Homo sapiens: one gene and its partners. The protein of the gene in region 1 purifies or fractionates together with the protein of each later gene. This does not show direct contact. Each region holds a gene or a part of one and is shown in the gene's direction. Other genes may lie near its edges. The genes, in order: TENT4B, NNT, DIAPH2, BCL7B, MPZL1, RCL1 and DDX55.

Region 1 (3,500 bases):
TGGGTGCTTAGAAATTCTTGCTTTGATTCATGTATTCTGATTTTTTTTTTTTTTTTGAGACGGAGTTTCGCTCTTGTTGCCCAGGCTGGAGTGCAGTGGCTCGATCTCAGCTCACCGCAACCTCTGCCTCCCAGGTTCAAGCGATTCTGCTGCCTCAGCCTCCCGAGTAGCTGGGATTACAGGCGCTTGCCACCACGCCTGGCTAATTTTTTATTTTTAGTAGAGACGGGGTTTCTTCATGTTGGTCAGGCTGGTCTCGAACTCCTGACCTCAGGTGATCTGCCCGTCTTGGCCTCCCAAAGGACTGGGATTACAGGCATGAGCCACCGTGCCCGGCCTCATTATCCTGATTTCTTTTTTTTCTTTTGAGACTGGGTCTCACTCTGCTGCCTAGGCTGGAGTGGAGTGACGTGATCATAGCTCACTGTATCCTCTAACTCTTGGGCTCAAGTGATCCTCCTGCCTTAGCTTCCTGGAGTAGCTGGGACTACAGGCACATGTCACCACACCTGCCTAATTTTTTTATTTTTACTTTTTGTAGAGATGGGGCCTCCATTTGTTGCCTAGGCTGGTCTTCAACCGGCCTCAAGCAGTCCTCCCACCTTGGCCTCACAGAGTGCTGGGATTATAGGCATGAGCCACCATTCTCGCCAGTATCCTTATTTCTTAACTTTAGAAAGTTTTTCTATTTTTAATATAGGTATTTAAAAAAATCTGAATTCAGAGTGCACCTCGATGTTATGCTGTTCTGAGATTAAATATACTAAAACTGTTACCATTGTTTTCTGAATTCTTAAGATGTGACTGATAGTTAGCTAATAGGTTAACACATTGTGGTGGTTCTTGGCCTCTGAACTGATAGTCCAGATGGGGAGAGGAGACCAGAAAGCATGTGAAAATGGACTAGAACCATGGGACAGCTATATAGTCTCTCGCAGCTGTCTTTTGTGTTCTCTGCTTCCACCAAATTGGTTGATTTATTTAGAATGCTGACCTCTTGCATTGCCTAAGTCCTTGATGTTTTTGGTTTCTCCTCTGAACTCTCAAAGGTACTCACTTCATGCTCTTGGTATAGCCCACTTATGTTTAACTTTCCTTTTATTATGTGTTCCCTCTTACACATGACATGGACATTTCTTTAATATGTAGAGTAAGATATTGGATTTCATCCTAAAGTCTTCAAAATAAAACTCTTGAGCTCATCATCTCAGACTTCTTCATGTACCCACAGACCAGGGATTTTGTTTGCTTTTTAAAACATTTTTTTATTTTGTGTTTTATTATTTTTAAATTTTAATTTAATTTTATGGAGACAGGGTCTCGCTCTGTTGCCCAGGCTGGAGTGCAGTGGTGTGATCTCGGCTCACTGCAGCCTTTGCCTGGGCTCAAGCCATCCACATGCCTTGGCCTCCCAGTGTGCTGGGATTACAGGTGTGAGCCACTGTGCCTGGCCTAAATTTATTTTTTTAATTTTTTTTGAGACAGGGTCTTGCTCTGTCGCTCAGGCTGGAGTGCAGTGTCATAATCATGGGTCACAGCAGCCTTGGCCTCCCAGGCTGAAGTGAACTTCCCACCTCAGCCTCCTGAGTAGTTGGGACTACAGGCGAGTGCCACCATGCCTGGCTCATTTTGGTTTTTTTTGTAAAGATGGGGTCTTGTCATGTTGCCCATGAAGGTCTCCAACTCCTGGTCCAAGTGATCCTCCCGCCTCCGCCTAGCAAAATGTTGGGATTACAGGTGTGAGCCACCATGCCTGGCCTTATTTATTTATTTAATTATGAATGAATGAATGAATTAATGAGAGGGAGTCTTGCTCTCTTGCCCAGGCTGGAGTGTGGTGGCACAATCTTGGCCCACTGCAACCTCCGTCTCCCAGGTTCGAGCAATTCTCCTGCCTCAGCCTCCCGAGTAACTGGGATTACAGGCGCCCGCCACCATGCCCAGGTAATTTTTGTATTTTTAGTAGAGATGGGGTCTCACCATGTTGGCCAGACTGGTTTCGAACTTCTGACCTCAAGTGATCTGCCCACCTTGGCTTCCCAAAGTGTCAGGATTACAGGCATGAGCCACCATGCCTGGCCTGGCCTTTTATGTTTTAAGTTGCTTCCACTGATTCTCTTGGGCTTTGCTCCCCTCCAGAACTGGCCATGGTTTAGGATGCTGTCCACCTGCTGCTGCTTGTCCATGAAAACGAGCCATAAACCCTTTTCTTTTGAAAGACTTAATTGTTTATCACTATGGAGAAAGAGGGGATGGCAAGAAGTAGCAAATACAGGGAATTTGCAGAACTTGGTCTTGAGCCCTGGGTCCAGAAACTTCTTCTGGAAGGTGCTTGGTGTTTGTCCAAGCTCATGATAGGTTTCTGTTGGCTGTACTGCCAGATCTGTAGATGCTTTTTTAAGGCTTGGATGACTTGTTCAAAACAATGTTTTGGAGTACAAATTTGGCTGTGGGGACATCAAGACCTTGTTGGGAAACTTGGGTTTAAGGTACAATTTCTTAAACTAGGATGGTGGGAATGGGGATGTGAAGGGAGAATGAATGTGAGAGGTATTACAGGGTAAGGATGGAGATGATTCAGATTCCTTAAGTGGATTTAATAATCACACTGTAGCTTTGAACTTGAGTGACTGGGGAAATATTTGTGGTGTTTTTGGAAATAAGGGCCAGAAGGACTATTGGTTTGGGTAAGAAGATAGTAGGGGGATGTATAGGTGGACCTGCTAGTGGGGAGCTGAGATTTGGAGGGCTGAGATGTAGTGCTCTTCACTGCCGTAGGGCAGTATCCTCTTGTATGTGCCATCCTCTAGTGCCCATTGTTCATCATGTCATAGTAAGCCCAAGATGTTCATGCCTTTTTTCAGCACTGCATTAGGGCTTATATCTGCTTCTCTTTCTCTCTCTCTCTCGCTCTCGCTCCCTCCCTCTCTCTCTCTTTCTGTTTTTTTTTTTTTTTTAGACGGAGTTTCACTTGTGTTGCCCAGGTTGGAGTGCAGTGGCGCGATCTTGGCTCATTGCAACCTCTGACTCCCGGGTTCAAGCAATTCTCCTGCCTCAGCCTCCCAAGTAGCTGGGATTACAGGCATGTGCCACCATGCCTAATTTTGTATCTTTAGTAGAGATGGGGTTTCTCCATGTTGGTCAGGCTGGTGTCAAACTCCCAACATCAGGTGATCTACCTGCCTCGGCCGCCCAAAGTGCTGGGATTACAGGCATGAGCCACCGCGCCCGGCCTCTCTCTGCTTATTTCTACACAGTGTTACCAATGAGATTGGTGTTACTGCTGGGCTCCAAAGCAATCAGACAGATTAAAGTAGATTGAATATGAAAGAATTTAGAGGCCTTTTTCCAAGTGATTTGTGCTCTATTTAATTTCTGTGCATTTGCAGATATAGCCCACAGTAATTCTTAGTGAACTAGAACCTTCAGGTTATTGAATTTTACTGATTTGGGTACTGACATGCGCTTTTAAGAAGACATTAGGTTTTCTATAGTGTAGA
Region 2 (3,717 bases), on another chromosome or scaffold:
AGCAATGTTTGTTTGCCTAACATGTCCTAGGTTGGTCTGTTAAATACACTCTCTCATTTAATCTCTGGTTCTCAGGTGATTGTTATGAAGAGGTCTTTGGGTGTTGGCTATGCTGCAGTGGACAATCCAATCTTCTACAAACCTAACACGGCCATGCTTCTAGGTGATGCCAAGAAAACATGTGACGCGCTCCAGGCGAAAGTTAGAGAATCCTATCAGAAGTAAATATTAAGGATCAAGCTGTTAGCTAATAATGCCACCTCTGCAGTTTTGGGAACAGGCAAATAAAGTATCAGTATACATGGTGATGTACATCTGTAGCAAAGCTCTTGGAGAAAATGAAGACTGAAGAAAGCAAAGCAAAAACTGTATAGAGAGATTTTTCAAAAGCAGTAATCCCTCAATTTTAAAAAAGGATTGAAAATTCTAAATGTCTTTCTGTGCATATTTTTTGTGTTAGGAATCAAAAGTATTTTATAAAAGGAGAAAGAACAGCCTCATTTTAGATGTAGTCCTGTTGGATTTTTTATGCCTCCTCAGTAACCAGAAATGTTTTAAAAAACTAAGTGTTTAGGATTTCAAGACAACATTATACATGGCTCTGAAATATCTGACACAATGTAAACATTGCAGGCACCTGCATTTTATGTTTTTTTTTTCAACAAATGTGACTAATTTGAAACTTTTATGAACTTCTGAGCTGTCCCCTTGCAATTCAACCGCAGTTTGAATTAATCATATCAAATCAGTTTTAATTTTTTAAATTGTACTTCAGAGTCTATATTTCAAGGGCACATTTTCTCACTACTATTTTAATACATTAAAGGACTAAATAATCTTTCAGAGATGCTGGAAACAAATCATTTGCTTTATATGTTTCATTAGAATACCAATGAAACATACAACTTGAAAATTAGTAATAGTATTTTTGAAGATCCCATTTCTAATTGGAGATCTCTTTAATTTCGATCAACTTATAATGTGTAGTACTATATTAAGTGCACTTGAGTGGAATTCAACATTTGACTAATAAAATGAGTTCATCATGTTGGCAAGTGATGTGGCAATTATCTCTGGTGACAAAAGAGTAAAATCAAATATTTCTGCCTGTTACAAATATCAAGGAAGACCTGCTACTATGAAATAGATGACATTAATCTGTCTTCACTGTTTATAATACGGATGGATTTTTTTTCAAATCAGTGTGTGTTTTGAGGTCTTATGTAATTGATGACATTTGAGAGAAATGGTGGCTTTTTTTAGCTACCTCTTTGTTCATTTAAGCACCAGTAAAGATCATGTCTTTTTATAGAAGTGTAGATTTTCTTTGTGACTTTGCTATCGTGCCTAAAGCTCTAAATATAGGTGAATGTGTGATGAATACTCAGATTATTTGTCTCTCTATATAATTAGTTTGGTACTAAGTTTCTCAAAAAATTATTAACACATGAAAGACAATCTCTAAACCAGAAAAAGAAGTAGTACAAATTTTGTTACTGTAATGCTCGCGTTTAGTGAGTTTAAAACACACAGTATCTTTTGGTTTTATAATCAGTTTCTATTTTGCTGTGCCTGAGATTAAGATCTGTGTATGTGTGTGTGTGTGTGTGTGCGTTTGTGTGTTAAAGCAGAAAAGACTTTTTTAAAAGTTTTAAGTGATAAATGCAATTTGTTAATTGATCTTAGATCACTAGTAAACTCAGGGCTGAATTATACCATGTATATTCTATTAGAAGAAAGTAAACACCATCTTTATTCCTGCCCTTTTTCTTCTCTCAAAGTAGTTGTAGTTATATCTAGAAAGAAGCAATTTTGATTTCTTGAAAAGGTAGTTCCTGCACTCAGTTTAAACTAAAAATAATCATACTTGGATTTTATTTATTTTTGTCATAGTAAAAATTTTAATTTATATATATTTTTATTTAGTATTATCTTATTCTTTGCTATTTGCCAATCCTTTGTCATCAATTGTGTTAAATGAATTGAAAATTCATGCCCTGTTCATTTTATTTTACTTTATTGGTTAGGATATTTAAAGGATTTTTGTATATATAATTTCTTAAATTAATATTCCAAAAGGTTAGTGGACTTAGATTATAAATTATGGCAAAAATCTAAAAACAACAAAAATGATTTTTATACATTCTATTTCATTATTCCTCTTTTTCCAATAAGTCATACAATTGGTAGATATGACTTATTTTATTTTTGTATTATTCACTATATCTTTATGATATTTAAGTATAAATAATTAAAAAAATTTATTGTACCTTATAGTCTGTCACCAAAAAAAAAAAATTATCTGTAGGTAGTGAAATGCTAATGTTGATTTGTCTTTAAGGGCTTGTTAACTATCCTTTATTTTCTCATTTGTCTTAAATTAGGAGTTTGTGTTTAAATTACTCATCTAAGCAAAAAATGTATATAAATCCCATTACTGGGTATATACCCAAAGGATTATAAATCATGCTGCTATAAAGACACATGCACACGTATGTTTATTGCAGCACTATTCACAATAGCAAAGACTTGGAACCAACCCAAATGTCCATCAATGATAGACTTGATTAAGAAAATGTGCACATATACACCATGGAATACTATGCAGCCATAAAAAAGGATGAGTTCATGTCCTTTGTAGGGACATGGATAAAGCTGGAAACCATCATTCTGAGCAAACTATTGCAAGGACAGAAAACCAAACACTGCATGTTCTCACTCATAGGTGGGAATTGAACAATGAGAACACTTGGACACAAGGTGGGGAACACCACACACCAGGGCCTGTCATGGGGTGGGGGGAGTGGGGAGGGATAGCATTAGGAGATATACCTAATGTAAATGATGAGTTAATGGGTGCAGCACACCAACATGGCACATGTATACATATGTAGCAAACCTGCACGTTGTGCACATGTACCCTAGAACTTAAAGTATAATTAAAAAAAAAAAGAAAACAGAAGCTATTTATAAAGAAGTTATTTGCTGAAATAAATGTGATCTTTCCCATTAAAAAAATAAAGAAATTTTGGGGTAAAAAAACACAATATATTGTATTCTTGAAAAATTCTAAGAGAGTGGATGTGAAGTGTTCTCACCACAAAAGTGATAACTAATTGAGGTAATGCACATATTAATTAGAAAGATTTTGTCATTCCACAATGTATATATACTTAAAAATATGTTATACACAATAAATACATACATTAAAAAATAAGTAAATGTATAAGTTTTTACACATTATATATATGTTTATATTGCTACTCATGTATCTATCTGGACAGTTTTCTGGCATGTAGACTATCATTTTATATTCTCTTTTTTTTCTAGGAATTAGAATAGAGAGGACTAATAGAGACTAATAGTCTCTTCGTGCAGTAGGCTTTTAACCCTTTACTGAGTCAGGAAATATCAGTTAAGTATTTGGTAATGAATTTGGAAAGTGAACCGTTGCCTTTCTGATTCTACCCAAGTCATGACCCTAACTTTTAGATTTTGCTATATTCTCGCATCCAACATAAATATAAAATATATTATATATCAGTAAACTTTAAGGTTTCATAAAATTTATCTGATCCCAAAGGTTGATTCTTTAAAAGTAGTAACTTGTGACTCATATGTTCATCTAACCTAGGGACAAATTTTTTAGTCCCCTAAGGCATAAGTCTTGTGAATTAAAGCATTTTAGTATTGGAAAGCTCTTTTGTGTAACTAGGC
Region 3 (3,500 bases), on another chromosome or scaffold:
GAACATGCTTGGAACTTTGTAGACACTCGACAAATATTTGTTGACTGAATAAATAGAATAAATGCAAAGGTGAAAGAAATGGGTCATCAAATAATTATGCCAGTATTTCAAGTCTGAAGAATTAAAAGGGTAGTGATGTTATTAATAAAGTATCAAAGAGTGGAAGATAAGTTGACTTAGGGGTATGGAGACAGAGGAAGATGAATTCAGCTTGTGAATTCATGCTTAAGTATGTCATGCTGGTGAAACAACCAAGGCAGTGCTGTGTAATGGGCAATCTAAAATGTGGAGAAGTCTAGGATTGAGGCAAAGATCACTGAGTCATCCTCATAGAGTCAATACTTGAAGCAGTGGGAATTGAAAAAATAATGACAAGCAATATTGAGACAGAATTATCAGATTTGAAAATTAAAATTTTATTTTGGATATTTAATGTTTTAAAATTACTAACTTACTTATACATCTAATTTTTTGTTTATTTCTCAGCTGGGTTAACAACTTTGGCCATGAAGGTCTTGGACTCTTATTGGATGAGCTGGAAAAGCTTCTGGACAAAAAACAGTAAGAATAAACACTGAAATTAAAATCACCAAAGGGAAAATGTTTCAGCACAACATAATATACATTTTTCTTTTATTTAGGCAAGAAAATATTGACAAGAAGAATCAGTATAAACTTATTCAATGCCTCAAAGCATTTATGAATAATAAGGTAAGTAGTATTTATTTCTGCCCCTGTCACAAAAGGTGGGAACTTGCCCAACACTATGAAAGTATGAAATGAACAAAATATTTTTTTATTATTTTTTTTAATTTCCAGGGTACATGTATATAGGCGAACATGTGCCATGGTGGTTTGATGCACAAATCGACCCATCAACCTAAATAATAAACCCGGCATGCATTAACTCTTTTCCCTCATCATCTTCCCCACCCCGTACCTATTTTTTACTTATGTTTCTGCTGTACTAATTAATTGTAGACTAGTTATTACAGGCTTATAAATAATAAGTGTTTATAAAGTTTTACAGTGAGGTTAAATACACATTTGAAACCATATATAAAAGATAAATTTGATGTTTAATTTTCCAAAATGTGAGCTATTGTTAGTTTTCTCGATTTTTTTTTTTTTATTTCTATGCTGATATTTCATTTTAACCAAAGAAGTCCTCACAGCATCCAGAGGATTTCAGGGATGATATAACTTCTGTAGATCTAAATCTTTTAAAAAATGGAGCCCTATTCCAATGTTTCTTCTATTCAAATATATTGCTTTCATATAGGGAAGATAGATAAAACAGTACTTTCCATTGTCTATGCTGCTAATTTCCTCAGGAGGGTGAGCTAGTCAATGAAACAAACAAAAAAAATGATTGGAAAAAGTGTATTTGACTCTTGTCTATAATTTAGAAATGCTGTGTCTGATTCTTATTCTGTTTATTCCTCCAATAATTTCTTTCATGTGAACAGAGGTCTTTTTGATTTTATAGTATACTAAATGTTCAGAAAACATAACAAAAAGAAAGAAATGAACAAAATAGTGAGTGCTTGTTCAGTTTACAAAAGGGTCTTTATGATGTAAATCCTTATAATATTTAAGTAATACTTACATGAAAGTTATACTTTGCTTCACAAAATATTTATTGGTGGGTTTTTGAAATCATGCAAATGAATTAGTGTTGTTCCCAATTTTGGTAATAATGCTTTTTCTTTAATGGTAGTAGGAAAATTTAAATGTCGTTTGTTGAATATGTTTCCACACAGAGAATTTCTGTTCTATTGAAAAGGAAAATTATAGGGATGGGTTGACTTATTTGCTAAGAACATTGTAAGATTGAGATTTCTCTTTCTTTTATGTTTTATTAATGTCAGCAAGTTTACATACATATAAGACATCTCTGAAAAATTGCAGGGCTTTTTATGTATATGTATAATACTAGTTGTATTATAAGGGACCCTGTGAATTTTAGACAATAATTTTTCTTCTAAAAATAGACTTTACTCAGGTTATGAAGTTACAGTATTTTTTCTATAAACTATTTTTTTTACTGTCTTAGAAATGACCTCTTCATACCTATAGATAAAATACTATTGACTAATTCACTTAATTACCTAATTCCCTTTACATAGTATTTTAATAATCTCAAAATAGATAATAGAAATAATTACAACAACAAGTAGAAGTTTGCCAAATGTAAAATATGGCTATTAATAACCAATGCAATAAGATTATATATTAATCTATAGACAGTCTCAAGCATATGGAAATACATATAAGTATTTATATATTATACATACATGTATCAGCAAAGAATGTTACTGTATGAGCATATGCAATGAATGCTTGCTAGTGGACATGAGACTCCTGAATATGCTAGTTGTACTGTTTCTGGAAGTTTCTTACAGAAATATTCCCATCACTACTAGTACAGATTTTCTCAAAATCTGGGCTCTTAGTCTTTGGCTACAAAGTTAAACAGAATCTGATGCCCAACAAGGAAATAATGAGCATTGCTTCTTCACAGCTCAAGATAGATCTCTTTCGTCAATTGAGGGAAACAATGACATAATGGAAAGATAACACAGTTCTAGAATTCAGGAGATATATATAGTTCATGCTTTGTTCCTAATAAGTTGTGTGGCCTTTGGAAAATTACTTGACCTCTCTGAGTATCAGTCCCCTCATCTGTAAATTTAGCTATAGGACACTTTGTTCTAAATTCTTATTGACTCATGTTGTCAATTGTCGTGGCTTTTCAGGATGCTAAGTAATTTTAATCAGGACAGTCACTAGAGAGAGTCATAATAGTAAGATTCTTATAGAGCCCTTTTTTTTTTTAACAGAACATACTTTGATTTGTCAACATTTAGTTTCTTAAGAGTTTGGCAGTTTCGGAAAGCATAATGATTTGACTTAGATTATTCGAAATTGATGTTTTTAGTTAGGCCACGTTAATGTCTTGCACATAGGTGCTCAGAGCATGGATTAATGGATCTTTTGAATTATAGACATGTGAAACAATAGGCATAAAATATGCCTTCAGAATAGAAAATATGCAGTGATCTTTTCACTTCATGTTGGAATAAATTGTCCAGATCAAGGAATTAAGCTTTTATCCAAAATGACTTACACATCAAATTTTTTGGCCCCATGGAGTTTAGATTACCTACTTCAAAAACTCCTTTCTTTTATCCAATACATGTAACAATAGGATCATAAAAAGCAACCCATTGTTTCTTAACTTCCAGTACTATAATATTGCTCTGATGTTTGGATTAATGATTTTCCAGATATATTTTTCATGTCTTCTTTTTTATTTTTGATGTGTCTCTATATATTAAAAACTACTTATAAACATTAAGTAAAATTTTTAAAACCTAATGATTTCACTCTCAGTCTCAATGACTCATAAAGCTATTAAGTTTGGTAATTGCGTGGTCATTGTCTCTCAGTTTTGCAAATGTGTTTTTCACTAATATTCATTACTTTTAATCATCTAC
Region 4 (2,417 bases), on another chromosome or scaffold:
AGCCGGCTAATTTTTTGTAATTTTAGTAGAGACGGGGTTTCACCGTGTTAGCCAGGATGGTCTCGATGTCCTGACCTTGTGATCTGCCCACCTCGGCCTCCCAAAGTGCTGGGATTACAGGCGTGAGCCACCGTGCCTGGCCTCGGCCTGGTAACTCTTAAGTTTTGCACCTTGATGGTGACTTTAAGCCTTCAGGCAGAACTCCCAGGTGCTAATCCGTCAGTCCGGCAGCCGAAGCCTGAGCTCACCACCTTCAGACACCACCAGCCTCCTTCAGATGCCCAAGGATGCCTGACAAATGTCATTTTCTACACATCTTATGATGTGAGAAGGATTGAGAAGTACTGACCAGAGACACAGCTACATCCCTCCCTTCCACAAGCTGCAATCAGTGGATAATAAAGAAGAGTTTAATAAGCATATCCTGACCTTCCTAAAGTGTAATGTTGCATAAACATAAAGATTCTGGCTGCCTCTGGTGCTTAGAATCTATGTCGTGTAGGCCGGGCACAATGATTATTATACTCAGTTGTATCCTTGGCTGCCTAAAGTGATGCCAGGCCCTTGGCTCTGTCCAGAGTTCCTCTTGAGGAAAATGACCACGCTCAGCTGCTGCCTTTGTTCTGTTTGGTTTTCAGACGAAAACAGCAACCAGAGTTCCGTGTCTGACGTCTATCAGCTTAAGGTGGACAGCAGCACCAACTCAAGCCCCAGCCCCCAGCAGAGTGAGTCCCTGAGCCCAGCACACACCTCCGACTTCCGCACGGATGACTCCCAGCCCCCAACGCTGGGCCAGGAGATCCTGGAGGGTGAGTCGTGGTTGGCCGAGGATGAGTTTCCTAGAAGGGCCTTGCTTTCTGCTCTTGTTGTGTCTCGTCTTTAGAGTAACAGGCTCGAGAGAGCACCTCAGAGCCAGGCAGCACCAAGCCCTTTCTCGATAGCTTAGGAATGATTATAGTTTCCCCTTTCACAGAGGGAAGGGAGAAAACAAGCATTAGAGTTGCGTGCCAGGCTGTGTGGAAGGAACTTGAGTATTTGACGCCTGCTATAATTCTCTCAAAAATCCTGTGAGGTGGCAGCTATTGTCTTCTTTTACAGATGAGGAAAATGGACATTCAAAGCTTAGAAAGGTTAAATTGGGCTGGGCATGGTGGCTCACACCTGTAATCCCAGCACTTTGGGAGGTCGAGGTGAGCGGGTCACTTGAGGCCAGGAGTTCAAGACCAGCCTGACCAACATGGCAAAACCGTCTCTACTAAAAACATAAAAAATTTAGTTGGGCGTGGTGGCATGTGCCTGTAATCCCAGCTACTCCGGAGGCTGAGGCAGAAGAATCACTTGAACCCAAGAAGCAGAGGTTACAGTGAGCTGAGATCACACCAGTGTATTCTTGCCTGGGCAACAGAGTGAGACTCCATCTCAAAAAAAAAAGACCTGGCGCGGTGGCTCACACCTGTAATCCCAGCACTTTGGGAGGCCGAAGTGGGTGGATCACCTGAGGTCAAGAGTTAGAGACCAGCCTGACCAACATGGTGAAACCCCATCTCTACTAAAAATACAAAAATTAGCCAGGCATGGTGGCGCAAGCCTGTAATCCCAGCTACTCGGGAGGCTGAGGCAGGAGAATCACTTAAACCCAGGAGGCAGAGGTTGCAGTGAGCCAAGATCGCACCAGGGCACTCCAGCCTGGCGACAGAGCTAGACTTCATCTCAAAAAAAAACAGAGAAAGGTTAAATCGCTTGTCTGAGATCACATAGCCAGTCTAGTAACTGTTGGAATGAATGTCACTTTAAGTCCTTCTATTTTCAGCATTTATGCTGTCTGCATTACATGCTAAATTTTTTTCTTTTCTTTTTTTTTTTTTTTTTTTTTTTAAAGAGATAGGGTCTTGCTCTGTTGCCCAGGCTAGAATGCAGTGGCTGAATCCTAGCTCACTGCAGTCTTGAACTCCTGGGGTCAAGTGATCCTCTTGCCTCAGACTCCGTAGTAGTAGGACTGTAAGCCTTTGCCACCATGCCTGGCTTTCTTTTAATTTTCTGTAGAAATGGAGTCTCACTATGTTGCCCAGGCTGGTCTTGAACTCCTGGGCTTCAAGTGATCCTCCCACCTCAGCCTCCAGAGTAGCTGGGATTATAGGTGTGAGCCACCATGCCCGACCCAGGTTTCTTGTTATAATATGGATATATAGATGTGTCTTAGGCCCTTGTTACCTTCTCCTGTGCTGTGACCTGTTAACAGCCAACTACAAAATGGAACTTGTTTCTCCATGGGAAATGCCAATTGTAGTTAATATTTATTGTGTTCTTACTATTTGGCATGTGCTGTTCTTAGCTCCTGTGTTTTATTACTTCATCTCGTCCTCATAGCAACTCTCAGAAAACTGGGAGATTGAGTTAGAGTTGTGATGTTTGGGCTA
Region 5 (3,500 bases), on another chromosome or scaffold:
TTTGAGTAGAAGAGTGATATGATCCAACCTGAATTTTAATGAGATCTCTTTGGCCTCTCTGTGGACTAGTTGCTGTGAAGTGGGGAAGGCTGAAGGAGGCAGACACCAATTAGGAAGCTATCAATACTTAATCCAGGTGAAAGATGACAGTGGCTTGGACCAAGATGGTGACACCAAATGAGGCAGAGAGAGATCAATTTCTAGATAGGTTTCTTTTGTTTTGTTTTGTTTTGTTTTTTGAGACAGAGTCTCGCTCTGTCACCCCGCCCAGAGTGTAGTGGTGTGATCTCAGCTCACTGCAAGCTCCGCCTCCCGGGTTCACGCCATTCTCCTGCCTCAGCCTTCCGATTAGCTGGTACTACAGGCGCCCGCCACCACACCAGCTAATTCTTTTGTATTTTTAGTAGAGACGGGGTTTCACCATGTTAGCCAGGATGGTCTTGATCTCCTGACCTCGGTGTTCCGCCCACTTTGGCCTCCCAAAGTGCTGGGATTACAAACGTGAGCCACCGCACCCGGCCCCTCTAGATAGGTTTCTAAGTAGAGATGACATGTGTAGCTGACAGCTTGGAGGAAAGTTGTGCAAAAGAGAGGAGTCACAAAACAGTCCAGGGTTTTGGTCTCAGCCACTAGAAAACTGGTGTTACCATTTACTGATTTGGAGAAGACCATGGAAAGGAAGTTTGGGGGGTGGGAATCAGGAGTTTAATTTGGACATATTAAATTTGAGATGATGCCAATTACATCCAAGCAAAGTTGAATAGGCTGTGTGTGTGTGTGTGTGTGTGTGTGTGTGTGTGTGTGTGTGTGTGTACAGGTGTCATCAGCATTTGAAACTGAGTGAGGTCACCAAGAGAAGGAATGTTAAATAGATACGCAGTCAGAGAAATGATCTGGGCTCTTAATCATATAGAGGTCAGGAGAACCAGGGAAGGAGCAGTCAATGAGATAAGAGAATCAAGAGGGAGAGGCATTCCAAAAGCCAAACTGTTAAAAAACAAAAAAAAAGGTTTTAGCAGGGAGTAACTTTCAAAGGTTTTAGATAGGGCAATAAGACAAGATTTGAGAATTAACCATGGAGGTCATTGCATTCCTTAACAAAAACAGTTTCTATGGAGTAACGGAGATGAAAGCCTAAATTGGATTTATCCAAGAGAACAGAAGAGGAGAGAAATTGGACACAGTGTGTACAGACAGTTCTTTCAAGATTGATAAAATAAAGGAGGACAAAGGGGCCAGAGCTGCAGGGAGATGCAGGGTCAAGGTTTTTTTTCTCTAAACCTGGGATATAAATATAAATATGTATGTTTATATTGCTGCTGGTGGTAATTCAGTAGTGAGTGAAAAATTCAGAAGAGGGAGAATTGCTGGATCAATAAATGTCCTTAGGTAGGCAAGAGATGAGATGCAATGTGCAGTGGAGAGGTTCATCCTGGAGAGGGATGCAGACAGACACTTTCTACATAGGAGTGCAGGGAAAGCAGAATGGGCACAGATGCAGGGAGGTGGGTAGCTATGGTGTCTGGACATAGGGAGGTTCTCTTCTCATTGCTTCTGTTTTCTCGGTGAAATAAGCAGCTCAGTCATTAGCTGGGAGTGAGAAACCAGAGGAAGTGGAAATTTGAGGTTAGAGAGGAAGGTTTAAACTAGTCCTCTAGGGAAATGGAAAGCAGATGGATTAGGGCAATGTGGGTGGATTGCTAGACAGCATTAAGAGTCCCTTTAAGGTTAGTGACCATACATTTAAGGCGAAAATAGTCAGTGGGATTGTGTGCTTTTGTCCAGCTGTGGTCAGCCACCCTGGTGGAGATGCATAGTGGATAGAGAATTGAATTTAACCAGGATAGAGGTTCCAGGTGAAGGCCCTGAAGGGAGAGGCAAGAGAGCTGATTGTGTATGCAAGGGGGTGAGTATAATGGTGGCCTATGGGGTTTAGTCTGAGTAAGGCAAATGAAGACATGCTGGGATTTTAGTTTCTGATGCAGCTTAGGGATCAGTGAACTCAGGGTTTTGGAGGATATTGGAAAGCTAAGAGGTGGTCAATTAGGGAGTAGAGAAGCCTGAAACTACGATTCTGGAGTGGGTGCAGGTACTGATGATTGGGTCTAGAGCTAGTGATTCTCAACTGGGGGGATTTCACCTCTGAGGAGGCATTTGCAATGTCTGGAGACATTTTTGGTTGTCACAACTGGAGGCAGAGGAGATACTGCTGTCATCTAGTAGAGGCCAGGGGTGCTGCTCAACATCCTACAAGGTATAGCACAGTTTCCCACAACAAAGGATTGTCTGTGGCAGTTGTCAGTAGTGCTGAGGTTGAGAAGCCCTGGTTTAGGGTATAAAAGAAAAACTTCAGCTGAATTAAATTTAAAGGAGTTTAACTGAACAAAGAATGAACTGCGAATTGGGCAGCCTTCTGAGCCAAGGTAGGCTCAGAGACGCCAGCGCAGCCACGTGGCGGAAGAAGATTTATGGACAGAAAAAGGAAAGTGATGTACAGAAAACGGGAGTGAGGTACAGAAACAGCTGCATTGATTATAGCTCAGCATTTGCCTTACTTGAACACAATTTGAACAGTTGGCTACATTTGATTGGCCAAAACTCGGTGCTTGGCCCAAGGTGATTGGCTACGGCCTGTTTACACCTACACTTGTTATAGTTCACAGTGTACAGAAAAACCCTTAGGCTGAACTTAAAATATGTAAGGAGGCAGCTTTAGGCTAAACTTGATTGAACAGGTATGACCATAGAAATGAGTGGCTGGGGTAGGCCTGATCTTACCCAGATTATTGGAGAAGATAAACAGACTAGGGTTTTAGAAGGTTTATCTTACAACTGATGAAATCTCCAAAAATGATGACAAGAGTAGTATTAGAGAAAAGTGTAGATAGCCAGGGATGGGAGGAAGTTAATTTCTCAGTGTGTGGCATCATTTTCTTTTTCTTGAGCTAGCTGATGGGCTAGCTTTGGATTTCATAATCCTGGCTAAGAGCTACACGTTCAGATTAGCCAAAGAGTGTTGTGTGTTTTTTAAAAAGCCACCTGTTTATTACCTAACTTTGGTATAATGAAATCTGTGTCTTAAATAGATGCCTAAAAGCCATTTGGGAATTTGGTTAGTCTTTTTGCTCAAAATTCTGTGACTGTAAACTTGGACACTTGGTCTAATTCCATCTTTAAATAATGTCTCGGGATGACAAGTCTTGCAGCTAGGCCTCGAGGAAGGGATCTGGTTTAAGAAAATCCTTGAAGAAGGCTGGGTGCGGTGGCTCACGCCTGTAATCCCAGCACTTTGGGGGGGCCGGGGCTGGTGAATCACCTGAGGTCAGGAGTTCGAGACCAGCCTGGGCAACATGGTGAAACCCCGTCTCTACTAAAAATACAAAAATTAGCTGGGCGTCGTGGTGGGTGTCTGTAATCCCAGCTACTCGGGAGGCTGAGGCAGGAGAATTGCTTGAACCCAGGAGGCGGAGGTTGCAACACTGCACTCCAGCCTGAGTGAC
Region 6 (3,500 bases), on another chromosome or scaffold:
TGTTAGAACTAGGATATTGACATTGATACAGTGAGATACAGAACATTTCTGTCACTCCAAGGATTCTTCATGTCTGTTGCTCTTTTGTAGCCACACTCAGTTTCCTCCTTCCCCCACTTCTTCCTTAACCCTTGTCAGTCTCTAATCTGTTCTTTAATTTCTGTAATTTTGTCATTTGAAGACTGCTCCATAAATGGAATCATATAGTATGTAACCTTTGGATTGGCTTTTTTCTGTTTTCTTAAATTTTATATTATAAATTAAAAAAATTTTTAAAAAGAAAAAACTTGAAGGGCCTTGAATGAGTCCTGTATTTTTATTTTTTGTCACTACCTCCCTGGGTTGGGAGTGGGTAATTTGCATGCTTGCTACCTTCCTTGGATGTGGTAGCCATTTCTCAGACTCTGACTCTGGAATCAAACCCTGATTCCCTGTCACCCATGGTCACCGTGGTAGGCATGGTGACTATCATCAAAAGTTGATATGGCAGACGTTCATATGGGTTGTTGCTGCCACATGGGAGTGTGTGATTAGCCTGAGGTTATCTAGAGTCACTATAAGGACTGGCTTTTTTTCAGTCAGCATGATTCTCTGGAGATTTATCTAAGATGTTTTTATCAAGTTTGTTCCCTTTTGTTGCTGAGTAGTATTTCATGGTATGAAAAGATCACAAGTCTTTTTATTTACCTGTTGAAAAACATGTAGGTTGTTTCCAGTTTTTGGCTATCTCGAATAAGGCTGCTATAAAAATTTGTGGACAGGTTTTTCTTTTTTTTTTTATTTTTATTTTTTATGGTGTCTAGCTCTGTTGCCCAGGCTGGAGTGCAGTGGCACGATCTTGGCTCACTGCACCCTCCCACTCCCGGGTTCAGGCGATTCTCCCACCTCAGCTTCCCGAGTAGCTGGGATTACAGGCACCCACCACCATGCCCAGATAATTTTTGTATTTTTAGTAGAGACGGGGTTTCGGCACGTTGGCCAGGCTGGTCTCGAACTCCTGATCTTAGGTGATCCACCCACCTCAGCCTCCCAAAGTGCTGGGATTACAGGTGTGCACCACCATGCCCAGCCAGGTTTTTTTATTTTTTTATGTGAACATAGTCTTCCTTTCTCTGGAATAAATGCCCAGGAGTGCTCTTGCAGGGTTGTATGGTAGTTGCATGTTTAGTTTTTTAAGATATTGCTGCCCTGTTTTCCAGTGTGGATGTATTTTTTTTTTTTTTTTTTGAGATGGAATCTCGCTCTGACTTCCAGGCTGGAATGCAGTGATGTGATCTTGGCTCACTGCAACCTCCGCCTCCCAGGTTCAAGTGATTCTCCTGCCTCAGCCTCCAGAGCAGCTGGGATTACAGGTGTGCACCACCACACCTGGCTAATTTTTTATATTTTTGGTAGAGACGGGGTTTCACTGTGTTGGCCAGGCTGGTCTCCAACTCCTGACCTCAAGTAATCCTCCTGGCTCGGCCTCCCAGAGTGCTGGGATTACAGGCGTGAGCCACCACACTGGCCTGGATGTACCATTTTATATTCCTATCTGTAGTGTATGAGGGATTCAGTTTCTCTGCATCCTTTCTAGCATTTGGTGTTGTCACTACTTTTATTCTGATAGGTATGTAGTGATGCCCCAGGGTGGTCTTAATTTGCGTATTACAAATGACTAATGATGTCTTAAGTGAAACATCTTTCCAAGTCTTTTGTCCATTTCTAATAGGATTGTTTGTATTAACTGTTTTGTTTTGTTTTTTTGAGATAGGGTCTTGCTTTTTCATCCAGGCTTGAGTACAGTGACACGATCATGGCTCACTACTGCCTCAGCTTCCTGGGCGTAAGCAAATCTTTCATCTCAGCCTCCCGAGTAGCTGGGACTACAGGCACATACCATCATGCCCGGCTAATATTTTAACTTTTTGTAGAGATGGAGTCTCGCTATGTTGTCCAGGCTGGTCTTGAATTTGTGGCCTCAAGCCATCTTTCTGCCTCACCTTTCCAAGGTGTAATTCCTAAGGTATTACAGGTGTGAACCACGGTGCCTGGCCTCTACTGTTGCTTTTGAGACTACTTTATATATGCTAGTCTTTTGGCAGATTTGTAGTTTGTTAATATTTTCTCCCACTGTGCACCTTGTCTTCTTATTATCTTAATATGGTTTCCAGAGGAAAATATTTTAATTTTAATGATGTAGAATTTATGATTTTTTTCTTTTGTGGCAGTGCTTTTAGTGTTAAGTCTAAGAACTCTTTGCCTAGCTTTAGGTGCGAGACTTGGGTTGCGATTCTTTTTTTTTTTTTTTTTTGCCTATGGAAAGCCAATTGCCCAAGCATCATTTGTTGAAACGGCATCTTTTTTCCATTTAATTGCTTTTGTGCCTTTGTACAAAATCAGTTCAGCATTTTTGTGTGGATCTCTTTCTGGGTTCTCCATTCTGTTCCATTGATTTATATGTCTGTCTCTTGCCAACACGACACAGTCTTTTTTTCTTTTTTTTTGAGACGGAATCTCGCTCTGTTGCCGCTGGAGTGCGGTGGTGCAATCTTGGCTCACTGCAGCCTCCGCCTGCCAGGTTCCAGCGATTCTCCTGTCTCAGTCTCCCGAGCATCTGGGATTATAGGTGTGTGCCACCACGCCTGGCTATTTTTTTTTTTTTTTTTTTTTTTGTATTTTTGTAGAGGCGGGGTTTCACCATGTTGGCCAGGCTGGTCTCGAACTTCTGAGCCCAAGTAATCCACCCGCCTTGGGCTCTCAAAGTGCTGGGATTATAGGTGTGAGCCACAGCTCCTGGCCAGTATATCACACAGTCTTGATTACTTACTGTAGCTGTCTAATGAGTCTTGAAGTTGGTTAGACTGATTCCTCCCAGTTTGTTTTTCAAAATCATTTTAGTTATTCTAGTTCCTTTGCCTTTCAATATAAATTTTAGAATAATCTTGTCTAATATACAAAAAAGCTTTCCAATATTTTGACAAGAATTATATTACACCCATATGTCCATTTGGGGATAATTGTCGTCTTTATTATGTTGAGGTTTTAATCCATGAACATGATCTGTCTCTCTACTTACTTAAATCTGTTTCTTTTCCCCAGATGAAATATTATAGGTTTATTTAAAACATAATTCTCATCCTGAGATGAGAAATGTTCATTTGTTCACAAAATGTTCATTTTTCAATGTTTACAAAATGTTCATTTTTTTTTACTTTGTTATTTACAAATATACGGAAGTAGTTTACTTAAATTTTTATTACATATTTATTAAGGCAGGTAACTACATAGAAAAAAATTTTATTCTGTCTTAAGCATACTTGGGAATAAACCATTTGACAAATTATTGCACATCTGAAACCACAGTGCATAACAAACTACAAAAAATGGTAAGTTTTGTTTTGTTTTGTTTTTTTAAGACAGGGTCTTGCTCTGTCGCACAGGCTGGGGTGCAGAGGTGCGACCTTAGCCTACTGCAACCTTGAATTCCTGGGCTCAAGCAATCCTCTTGCCTCAGCCTC
Region 7 (3,500 bases), on another chromosome or scaffold:
CCCAGATTGCCCTGTGCCCGGTCCAGGGAAAGGTTGTGATGACTGTCAAGCAGCAAGGAGCAAATCCATTTGTCCTGTCTGGGTAGAAACTGTCTGTGGCTTAAGGCCGGACACGGTGGCTCACGCCTGTAATCCCAGCACTTTGGGAGGCCGAGGCGGGTGGATCACGAGGTCAGGAGATCAAGACCATCCTGGCTAACGTGGTGAAACCCTGTCTCTACTAAAAACAAAAAATTAGTCGGGCATGGTGGCTGGCGCCTGTAGTCCCAGCTACTCCAGAGGCTGAGGCAGGAGAATGGTGTGAACCCAGGAGGCGGAGCTTGCAGTGAGCCGAGACTGCGCCAGTGCACTCCAGCCTGGGTGACAGAGTGAGACTCCATCTCAAAAACAAACAAACAAAGAAACAAAAAAACAAAAAACTGTCTGTGGCTTATTAGGCTTGTGACTATACAGCAGGCAACTTGTGTCTACCAATGACCATAACTTGTATCTGCTTGTGCTGACAAATAATAGTTTTCTGTTTTTCTTAATCATTGAACATCTGACTATATTAAAAGTCTTCTTTTGGACAAAGTGATATACCTGACTGCTAGGCCTCAGTTATGGAGTGAATTGTCCGTTGTTTTTCAGATGGCTACAAAGGATTAGACCCATACAGTTTTGGTTTTCAAATGGCAGTGCTGTAATTTTTAAAATCCCTTTGCTGTCTCTCACCTCCCTCCAATTTTTATTGGAATTTATGAAGTCCCAGAGATTTGTAGAAAGAAGAAAAAATCAAAATATTACCTTAAACATTTGCTTCTGTGAGAAGCTCCAGCACCTGTGTGTCACTGTCATCGAGATCAGTAGGCTGTTTGATGGTGATGAAGATGGTGGCCTCCTTACTCAGAATGCTTTTTTCTCATTTCCTAGTGGGATTTTAGTGTGCACTGATGTGATGGCCCGGGGAATTGATATTCCTGAAGTCAACTGGGTTTTGCAGTATGACCCTCCCAGCAATGCAAGGTATGGTACGAGGCTGCCACCCACTCTCTGTTGAGGAATTTAGCCTAATAAAGGAGGAATCCCGAAGAAGATAAACAGATAATGATGTTCACTGAAACATTTTATAGCAAGCCTCCAGCGTGCTTGGGTCTGCAGTGACCCCGTGGATTCCTACAGGGCTTGCCAGAACAGTTTTGAAATGGTTTGAGGCCTTGCCGTGCTCCATGTAGAGCAAGGTTATAGAAATTTCAGACAATGAGAGAAAACAAAAAACAACAACATTATTTGAGGCTGGGCGCGGTGGCTCACGCCTGTAATTCCAGCACTTTGGGGAGGCCGAGGCAGGTGAATCGTTTGAGCCCAGGAATTCACCAGCTTGGGCAACAGGACAAAACCCTGTCTCTACAAAAAATATATATACAGATTAGCCAGGCGTGTGTTCCTGTAGTCCCAGCTACTTGAGAGGCTGAGGCAGGAGAATCGCTTGAGCGCAGGAGGCAGAGGTGGCAATGGATTGTGCCACTTCACTCCAGCCTGGGCAACAGTGTGAGACTCTGTCTCAAAACAAAAACCCGTTGTTTTAAGTAGCAAAAATAGGCAAATGGATGAATAACCCATTCATGGTGAAATCGTGATACTGTATTGGTAGCAATTAAAAGTACTTTCAAATATTATCAGTTCTTGCAGAAACACACAATAGAATGTCTAAATGAAAAAAGCAATACATACCACCACATGTGAAAATTACAATTACTTTCTTCAAAGTCAGCATATATTCCTAATACATGCTTCCACGCATAGGAAAATGCCTATAAACCCCCAAGTGTTGATGATTACTCCTGAGGTTATTGGTCATTTTCATTTTATTCTTTGTATTTTTCATTGTTTCCCAGATTTTCCACTGGGGACTATGTCCCACCTGTATGATCAGAGAGAAAGATACAAGTTTTACTTAAGAGTTCACATTAAATGTTTCTTACAGAATCGTATCTGTTTGCAGTGTTGGTTTAATTGCCAGTTCTATTTCTCACACTAGTAAGTGGCCGAGTCCACACTGAGCTGTGGAGGCTAGAGGCTCCCCAGAGCGTTTTAGCTGCAGCAGCCATGTGGCTGGAGCCTGAGCTCTGTTCAGCTGTCATCACCTGGGTACCCATTTCCACCCTGTGTTCTCACAGTGCCTTCGTGCATCGCTGCGGTCGCACAGCTCGCATTGGCCACGGGGGCAGCGCTCTGGTGTTCCTCCTGCCCATGGAAGAGTCATACATCAATTTCCTTGCAATTAACCAAAAAGTAAGCTGCCGTCCGTTTTCAGATAGAATGCCTAGTGACGGGGTAGCTGGAAAAGTTCTCCAGCATGTGGTCAGCAATTGAAATTACGAATTGCAAACTCACTGGGGCTGGGCTGGTGGTGGCAGTGGGGGGCCCTGGTGGGGTTTTTTTTTTTTTTTTTTGAGACGGAGTTTCACTCTTGTTGCCCAGGCTGGAGTGCAATGGCACTATCTCGGTTCACCGCAACCTCCACCTCCCGGGTTCAATGGATTCTCCTGCCTCAGCCTCCCAAGTAGCTGGGATTACAGGCATGCGCCACCCCAGCTAATTTTGTATTTTTAGTAGAGATGGGGTTTCTCCATGTTGGTCAGGCTGGTCTTGAACTCCCGACCTCAGGTGATCCGCCCACCTCGGCCTCCCAAAGTGCTGGGATGACAGGCGTGAGCCACCGTGCCCGGCCACCCTGGTGGGCTTTAAGGCTGTGGAGGCACCTCGGTCATGGAGTGACCAAGTCTCCTGTGTGGTAGCATGCCCTGCTGGGACCCAGGCAAGGGTTACTTCTTGTGAATAGAGACCCAGTGTTGCCATACTTTGCTACCAGATTAGGATTGTCATGTGAAATCTGATTTTTAAATTTTCTTTTAAAAATTTAACATACTTTACAGAGCATGTGAAATATTTGGGTTGGAGTTGGGCTTCAGACCTCAACAGTTGAAAAGGAATTGTTTCGCTTTTGTTTTTCTTGGTTGTGATGGGGAGCCCTGGGGATATGATGCCAGCCAGGGAAGGTGAGAATGTGGTATGTGTGTGTGTGTAGTGCCCCCTGCAGGAGATGAAGCCCCAGAGAAACACAGCGGACCTTCTGCCAAAACTCAAGTCCATGGCCCTGGCTGACAGAGCTGTGTTTGAAAAGGGCATGAAAGCTTTTGTGTCATATGTCCAAGCTTATGCAAAGCATGAATGCAACCTGATTTTCAGATTAAAGGGTAAGTTGGACTTCTTCATGTGATAATGTCTCCATCTTAACTATGTGGTGGTCTTACAAGTATGAGATTGCTTTGTCTCATAAAAGGAAGTGTTCCCAGGTTTTGAGTAGACACAGAATAAACTGGCCACTGGCTGCTGAGTATTCCTTTTAACTTTGTAAAAATGTAATTTTTTTAATTTTTGAGACAGAGTCGCGCTTTGTCACCCAGCCTGGAGCGCAGTGGCGCGATCTCGGCTCACTGTAAGCTCTGCCTCCCAGG

What was found.
Region 2: the proteins of TENT4B (region 1) and NNT purify together in Homo sapiens (affinity purification with mass spectrometry, with the first as the bait; one large-scale study listed by BioGRID). This does not show direct contact.
Region 3: the proteins of TENT4B (region 1) and DIAPH2 purify together in Homo sapiens (affinity purification with mass spectrometry, with the first as the bait; one large-scale study listed by BioGRID). This does not show direct contact.
Region 4: the proteins of TENT4B (region 1) and BCL7B purify together in Homo sapiens (affinity purification with mass spectrometry, with the first as the bait; one large-scale study listed by BioGRID). This does not show direct contact.
Region 5: the proteins of TENT4B (region 1) and MPZL1 purify together in Homo sapiens (affinity purification with mass spectrometry, with the first as the bait; one large-scale study listed by BioGRID). This does not show direct contact.
Region 6: the proteins of TENT4B (region 1) and RCL1 purify together in Homo sapiens (affinity purification with mass spectrometry, with the first as the bait; one large-scale study listed by BioGRID). This does not show direct contact.
Region 7: the proteins of TENT4B (region 1) and DDX55 purify together in Homo sapiens (co-immunoprecipitation; one large-scale study listed by IntAct). This does not show direct contact.

The regions. Positions count from the first base shown.
Region 1 is NC_000016.10:50,156,306-50,159,805, forward strand, and holds part of TENT4B (terminal nucleotidyltransferase 4B), read left to right. Parts: intron 1-3,500. UniProt on the Homo sapiens protein: Terminal nucleotidyltransferase that catalyzes preferentially the transfer of ATP and GTP on RNA 3' poly(A) tail creating a heterogeneous 3' poly(A) tail leading to mRNAs stabilization by protecting mRNAs from active deadenylation.
Region 2 is NC_000005.10:43,704,180-43,707,896, forward strand, and holds the end of NNT (NAD(P) transhydrogenase, mitochondrial), read left to right. Parts: intron 1-75; coding exon 76-225; 3' UTR 226-3,217; downstream 3,218-3,717. UniProt on the Homo sapiens protein: The transhydrogenation between NADH and NADP is coupled to respiration and ATP hydrolysis and functions as a proton pump across the membrane. May play a role in reactive oxygen species (ROS) detoxification in the adrenal gland.
Region 3 is NC_000023.11:96,911,842-96,915,341, forward strand, and holds part of DIAPH2 (protein diaphanous homolog 2), read left to right. Parts: intron 1-486; coding exon 487-561; intron 562-641; coding exon 642-711; intron 712-3,500. UniProt on the Homo sapiens protein: Could be involved in oogenesis. Involved in the regulation of endosome dynamics.
Region 4 is NC_000007.14:73,538,274-73,540,690, reverse strand, and holds part of BCL7B (B-cell CLL/lymphoma 7 protein family member B), read left to right. Parts: intron 1-638; coding exon 639-809; intron 810-2,417. UniProt on the Homo sapiens protein: Positive regulator of apoptosis. Plays a role in the Wnt signaling pathway, negatively regulating the expression of Wnt signaling components CTNNB1 and HMGA1.
Region 5 is NC_000001.11:167,759,982-167,763,481, forward strand, and holds part of MPZL1 (myelin protein zero-like protein 1 isoform a precursor), read left to right. Parts: intron 1-3,500. UniProt on the Homo sapiens protein: Cell surface receptor, which is involved in signal transduction processes. Recruits PTPN11/SHP-2 to the cell membrane and is a putative substrate of PTPN11/SHP-2.
Region 6 is NC_000009.12:4,799,444-4,802,943, forward strand, and holds part of RCL1 (RNA 3'-terminal phosphate cyclase-like protein), read left to right. Parts: intron 1-3,500. UniProt on the Homo sapiens protein: As part of the small subunit (SSU) processome, it plays a role in 40S-ribosomal-subunit biogenesis in the early pre-rRNA processing steps at sites A0, A1 and A2 that are required for proper maturation of the 18S RNA.
Region 7 is NC_000012.12:123,615,599-123,619,098, forward strand, and holds part of DDX55 (ATP-dependent RNA helicase DDX55), read left to right. Parts: intron 1-786; exon of another isoform or gene 787-912; coding exon 913-1,005; exon of another isoform or gene 1,006-1,049; intron 1,050-1,111; exon of another isoform or gene 1,112-1,242; intron 1,243-1,713; exon of another isoform or gene 1,714-2,159; coding exon 2,160-2,274; intron 2,275-2,998; coding exon of another isoform or gene 2,999-3,070; coding exon 3,071-3,239; intron 3,240-3,500. UniProt on the Homo sapiens protein: Probable ATP-binding RNA helicase. Has ATPase activity and is involved in the maturation of precursor large subunit rRNAs.